Linked DNA regions of Homo sapiens. The protein of the gene in region 1 interacts with the protein of each later gene in a pairwise test. Each region holds a gene or a part of one and is shown on either strand. Other genes may lie near its edges.

Evidence for each region. Proteins that work in one complex are often made in the same cells at the same time.
Region 2: the proteins of VMAC (region 1) and SPG21 interact in binary tests that used the Homo sapiens proteins (3 or more experiments, as listed by UniProt).

The regions. Positions count from the first base shown.
Region 1 is NC_000019.10:5,907,824-5,911,353, forward strand, and holds the end of VMAC (vimentin-type intermediate filament-associated coiled-coil protein), read left to right. Parts: intron 1-1,000; coding exon 1,001-1,319; 3' UTR 1,320-3,030; downstream 3,031-3,530.
Region 2 is NC_000015.10:64,962,522-64,965,962, forward strand, and holds the end of SPG21 (maspardin), read right to left. Parts: intron 2,940-3,441; coding exon 2,799-2,939; intron 1,216-2,798; coding exon 1,099-1,215; 3' UTR 501-1,098; downstream 1-500. UniProt on the Homo sapiens protein: May play a role as a negative regulatory factor in CD4-dependent T-cell activation.

The sequences.
Region 1 (3,530 bases):
CCCCTTTGCTGGTCTCTCACTGTCTCTCCTGCTGCCCTATAAAGAGGTTCCTTCCATCATGATTGTAAGTTTCCCGAGGCCACCCCCAGCCATGTGGAAATGTGAGTCAATTACACCTCTTTATAAATCACCCAGTATCAGGTATGTCCTTAGAGCATCGTGAGAATGGACTAATACACCTCCCATTGGGGTTAGGACTTCATCATATGAATTTTGGGGAGACAGAAAGATGCAGTTCAGGCTGGGTACAGTGGCTCAGCCTGTAATCCCAGTACTTTGGGAGGCCAAGGCGGGTGGATCACTTGAGGTCAGGAGTTTAAGACCAGTCTGGCCAACATGGCAAAACCTTGTCTCTACTAAAAATACAAAAATCAGTCAGGCATGGTGGCGCATGCCTGTAAACCCAGCTACTCGGGAGGTTGAGGAGGACAGTTTGAACCTGGGAGGCAGAGGTTGCACTGAACTCCAGCCTGGGCAACAGAGCGAGACTGTCTCAGAAATTATAATAATAGGCTGGGCGTGGTGGCTCACGCCTGTAATCCCAGCACTTTGAGAGGCCATGGCGGGTGGATCACGTGGTCAGGAGTTCGAGACCAGCCTGGCCAGCATGGTGAAACCCCATCTCTACTGAAGATACAAAAAACTAGCCGGGCATAGTGGTGGGCACCTGTAATCCCAGCTACTAGGGAGGCTGAGGCAGGAGAATTGCTTGAACCCTGGAGCCGGAAGTTGCAGTGAGCTGAGATTGCACCATTGCACTCCAGCCTGGGCGACAGAGCTAGACTTCGTCTCAAAAAAAAATAATAATAAAATAAAATATAATAATAATAATAAAAACAAAGAAACATTCTGTTCATAACCAGGGAGGACCCTGAGGCAGTGGTGAGGAATGCGGGCTTTATCCCAAAGGTGATGGGGAACCTCTTGCGGGTCCAGAGCAGGGAGGAGCAGGTGCTGTGGTCCTCAGTTCTGTAATCACCTCCTCTTGCCTTCCTGCCAGTGAGATTGCCACACTCCAGGAGCAGCTGATGACCTCAGAAGCCACTGTCCACAGCCTGCAGGCCACCGTGCACCAGAGGGACGAGCTCATTAGGCAGTTGCAGCCCCGGGCTGAGCTGCTGCAGGACATCTGCCGCCGCCGGCCACCCCTGGCTGGGCTGCTGGATGCCCTGGCTGAGGCTGAGCGCCTGGGGCCCCTGCCGGCCAGTGACCCCGGCCACCCACCCCCCGGTGGGCCTGGTCCACCCCTTGACAACAGCACTGGGGAAGAGGCGGACAGGGACCACCTCCAGCCTGCAGTGTTTGGGACCACAGTGTGAGCCCGGAATGCAGATTACAGAATGGAGACAGAAAGCCACTGCTGTCAGTGTCCTTGGGAGTCACCAGCACCCTGCAGGGGGACCCTACGGCAGAGCCAAAGTCCTGTCTAAGCATCAGAACAGGCTGAACAGTCAAAAAGTTTTCAAATAGGCCCACAGGCCAGGTGCAGACGTTTAACCCAGACAGAAGTGTTCTTGTTTGTTTTTAAGCTTTGAATCAGTCACCCTTGCTAAAAACCTGGCAATGCAAACACAAAGATCTGGATTTCTGGCAAGACTTGGCCAAGCTTGCCTGGAGTTCAGGGCACCCTCTTTAGCCAGGGTGTGAGTTTCTGTTTTTTGTTTTTTTTTTTTTAAGACAGAGTCCCACTCTGTCGCCCTGGCTGGGGTGCAGTGGTGCGATTTTGGCTAACTGCAACCTCCGCCTCCCAGGTTCAAGCGATTCTCCTGTCTCATCCTTCAGAGTAGCTGGGATTACAGGCGCCCACCACCACACCCGGATATTTTATATTTTTGGTAGAGACCGGGGAGGGGAGGGGGTTTCACCATGTTGACCAGGCTGGTCTCAAACTCCTGACCTTAGGTGATCCACCCGCCTCGGCCTTCGAAAGTGCTGCAGTTATAGGTGTAAGCCACCGCGCCCGGCCCTAGCCTAGCTTTTGTAGCATGCAACTGTCTCCTTTTTATACGCCCTAAAGAATATATTTTTGAACTCCTTGTTTCTGCGCTGTCCTTCTTAGCCCAGGACATTCAGGGTGCTTTGCTTGTTGTCAAACCAGGGAAAGGAGAAAACTCCTGTGCCTTTCTGGGCCAGCCTGTCACCCTGGCCTGGTCGGCAGCCATTCCCCTACCTCCTCACTCAGGAACTGTCACACCAGGAACCGGCGAGGGGCACAGCCTGTTTCAGACCAGAAAGGTCGGAGGCCACCCACGGCCTTCAGGATGGCGCCCGCCTGCCTGCCTGGCAACAGTGACCCCTCAGTGCAGTAACAATGGGCCCATTTTCTCCTCTGGATGAACAAGGAGGGGGGTTGTTTGTACAAAGGAAAGGCAGGCTGGGGCCTGTCTGTGCTCAAGAATAAACCGGATGATTTCCTGGCCTGGGGGCAAGAGGGAGGCCCTCTGTGTTATTTGTGCCTCCTGGTAGGGTCCTGCTGGGCCAGGTAGAATCTAGGGAGTGTAGGCCAAGCACTCTCTACAGCGATTGCATCTAATCTTCGAGTTTCCCTGTAGACACAGGCTTTGTCCTCATTTTACAGCTGTGGAAAGTGAGGCCCAGGCCGGGCGCGGTGTCTCACGCCTGTAATCCCAGCACTTTGGGATGCGGGTGGATCACCTGAGGTCAGGAGTTCGAGACCACCCTGGCCAACATGGTGAAACCCCGTCTCTACTAAAAATACTAAAATTAGCCGGGCTTGGTGGCGGGTGCCTGTAATCCCAGCTACTGAACCCGGGAGGCGGAGGTTGCAGTGAGTGGAGATTGCACCACTGCACTCCAGCCTGGGAGACAGAGTGAGACTCAGTCTCAAAGAAAACAACAACAACAACAACAACAACAACAACAACAACAAACAGAGGCCCAGAGGTGTGAAGGGAACACACTCCGGGTCTGGAGGGCCAGGGCCACTTCCAATTCTGGGGGAAGTTATTGCTGAAATTCTGTTTTCTTTCTTTCTTTCTTTTTTTTTTAAAGAGACAAAGTCTCACTGTTGCCCAGGCTGGAGTGCAATGGTGTGATCACAACTCACTGCAGCCTCAAAATCCTGGTCTTGGCTGGGCCAGTGGCTCACACCTATAATCTCAGCACTTTGGGAGGCCAAGGCAGGTGGATCACCTGAGGCCAGGAGTTCAAGACCAGCCTGACCAACATGGTGAAACTCCGTCTCTACTAAAAACACAAAAATTAACCGGGTGTGGTGGCGCGTGCCTGTAATCCCAGATACTCGGGAGGTTGAGGCAGGAGAATCACTTGAACCCGGGAGATGGAGGCTGTAGTGAGCCGAGATTGTACCACTGCACTCCAGCTTGGGCGACAGAGGGAGACTCCGTCTCAAAAAAAAATCCTGGGATCAAGCTATCATGCTACCTCAGCCTGCCAAGTAGCTGGGACCATGGGCATATGCCACCATGCCTGGCTGCGTTTTTGCATTTTTTCTAGAGATAAGGTCTCATTACATTGCCCAGGCTGGTCTTGAACTCCTGGCCTCAAGT
Region 2 (3,441 bases), on another chromosome or scaffold:
CTACTAAAAATACAAAATTAGCCGGGCGTGGTGGTGCATACCTGTAATCTCAGCTACTTGGGAGGCTGAGGCAGAAGAATTGCTTGAACCCGGGAGGCGGAGGTTGCGGTGAGCCGAGATCACGTCATTGCACTCCAGCCTGGGCAACAAGAGCGAAACTCTGTCTCAAAAAAAAAAAAAAGAAAAGATGAACAAGACTGTCTGAGAGTTGATAATTTTTGAAGCTGGATGATGGGAACATCATTCATTATGCCATTTTCTCTACTTCATGTGGGTTTAAGCATTTTCACTCAGGGGAAAGAAGACGAGAAAAGTACCTGGCACACAGTAGCAGATCAATAAATGATAGCTTAGGGTTATTTTATGATGTGCAAACTGTACTTCAGGGAGATTAAGTAACTTACCCAAAGTCACACAGAATTGGCAACCATGACCTACTTCTCAGAAAGTCCTAGGCCTGTGTAGCCCAGTTGGGCAGCAACAATAATCACAAAAGCGACTCAGTTAAATTGAATTTTTATTCCAAATGACTAATATCTAGAAAGGCAGTAGCTAACACTCAAAACAATTTGTTTAAGTGTAAATTAAAAGCAGTTGATTTGCAGGAGAGCAAACAGTGGGGTAGTGGCCATGGCACTCTGATCATGGTTATATCCAAGAAAGCATAAAATAACCAATGTCCTGATATGCAATCTGGATGTGCAGCATTTACAGCAAACAACATAAAAAGAAAGAAAGAAGAATGGAAAAGAAAAGAAGAAAAAAACCACCACAAAGTCCCAAACCTCAGAAATTAACATTCACTTAAGAACACAGTGGTGAAGACTTTTGGTAGCAAAATTTGCACGGTTCTTAAAATGGGAGTCTTCAAAAGTACTTCTTCAAATTCAAAAGCTAAGAAAACCAAAGAGGGAACAGTTACACAGGCTTAGTGGAGATGCCGCCTGTCATGAAGATGACCATCAGTCCTACTTCCCAGACACAGTGAGAACCGGTGAGCCTGACGAACCTGAAGGAAAAGGCTGGCTGACGGGTGCTGATGCCACTGACTATACAAGAACACACCGGGTCAACTCATCATTGACAGCGAGAGACACACTACTGCTCCTCCTGGCTGATGCCAAGGCTGCCTTTCTGCACCTCAAGCTCCTCGGCACTGACCATTGATGGGTCAATGGCCGCGTATTTGGTTCCATGGAATTGCAGCAAATGTATCTGTTGAAATGCAGAATCATTATTTTATTTATTTTTTGAGCTGGAGTGTCACTCTTGTTGCCCAGGCTGGAGTGCAGTGGCACTATCTTGGTTCACTCCAACCTCCGCCTCCCGGGTTCACCCAATTCTCCTGCCTCAGCCTCCCGAGTAGCTGGGATTACAGGTGCCCGCCACCATGCCCAGCTAATTTTTGTATTTTTAGTAGAGACAGGGTTTCACCATGTTGGCCAGGCTGGTTTTGAACTCCTGGCCTCAAGTGATCCATCTGCCTCGGCCTCCCAAAGTGCCAGATTACAGGTGTGAGCCACTGCACCCTGCCAGAATCATTGTTTTAAATGGCTGCATTACAGAGTAAAATGTATACTGCCTTCTATAAAAAGTTTGGTAGGAAAACATCACCATAGTGGACAAATGTTTTATACTTCTAAAATTTACAGACTAAGACATACTAAATAGAGAAAAGTCAAACAATTTTTTGAAACCACATTTGGGATCTTTGTTCCTCACTCCCTGAGCAGTCTCCCTGAGTCCCTGCAGAGTCTCCTGAGACATCTTAGATGGTGCATGCTCATGAGATGTTTACCCTTCCCTTCTGCTGCTGTGAGTTAGGTCCTTCCAATCTTCTGCTACTGTGACTAGTGCTGCTATGATGAATATCTCTGGGCATCAAGTATTCCTGTTTAGGATCCTGTCTTCTATAAGGGGATGACAGGATCAAGGGATATGACTGGTTTTTGGGATTACAGGTGTGAGCCACCATGCGTGGCCAGGATATAACTGGTTTTTTAAGGCTCTTGATTCATCTTGCCAAACTGCCAGGGCACTCACCCCTCACTGCTATTCTATTATCCATTTAGTTAGAGTATGAAGGGATGGTGTTTGTTAGGGCTTTCTTTTCTTTTCTTTTTTTTTGAGACGGAGTCTTGTTCTGTTGCCCAGGCTGGAGTGCAATGGCGTGACCTCGGCTCACTGCAACCTCTGCCTCCAGGATTCAAGTGATTCTTCTGCCTCAGCCTCCCGAGTAGCTGGGACTACAGGTGTGCACCACCACGTCCAGCTAATTTTTTTTGTATTTTTAGTAGAGACGGTTTCACCATATTGGCCAGGCTGGTCTTGACCTCCTGACCTTGTGATCTGCCTGCCTCAGCCTCGCAAAGTGCTGAGATTACAGGCATGAGCCACTACGCCTGGTAGGGTTTTCTTTTAATGCATTAAAATTAGATCAAGAAGTCACTTCACAGGACTCAGATTGACCCCATTTAGGTCTGGTGTCTTGCTCTGATGGAATTCACTGTGTCCAGAGGGCAAGGTCACATCATACCAATAGTAACCTCAGTGTGTGAATGCAGGCCTGCTGTCCTTAGAAAAGGGATGGTGGCCAGAGAGTCACTGGGGGATCTCTAATATACCTGTTCAAATTCTCCTACAAGTTATAAATGTAAACCACTTTTATCAAGTCAATGCCTCATTTCTACAAGGAATTCTGTAGTTCACTGATTCCCTAACTAGTCCATTAAAAGAAGTCTTTATGTTGCAAACATATGTTGGGCTCAGAGTGCTCTGGGTTTCAAGCTAGGCCTTACCTGTACATAAAGATTGACCTCTGCACTTCTGCACAGGTATGGGAAATTGCCTCCTGTTTTCAGATGAGCTCTTCGGGCATTAGGATACAGCTTGTACATTTCTTCTTTAGCTTCAGTTGAAAGCGCACTCTGATCAAACACCTTTAAAAAACACAAAGCTTCAGCACCATAGGAAAGGTAAAACACACACACACATACAGAAAGCTGTAATCAACTAGTGTTTTAATATGTTCTTTTCACATTATGGAAATGTTACCCTAAGTATTCCTTTCATATGAAGACAATCCTGAACCCCCAGCAGCCTGAACTACCTCCACTGCTGATCCCTGGTGACTTATAACTCCAACCGAAGACATTAGCTACAGATTTTGCTGCACAGCATCTCCTGCATTCTTTTGGTGGGGGGAAATTCTTTTTTTTTTTTTGAGGTAGAGTGCAGTGGTGTGATCTCGGCTCACTGCAATCTCCACCTCCTGGGCTCAAGTGATTCTCCTGCCTCAGCCTCCTAAGTACCTGGGACTACAGGCATGCGCCATCACGCCTGGCTAATTTTTGCATTTTTAGTAGAGATGGGGTTTCACCATGTTGGCCAGGCTGGTCTCAAACTCCTGACCTCAGGTGATCTGCCCACCTCGGCCTCCCA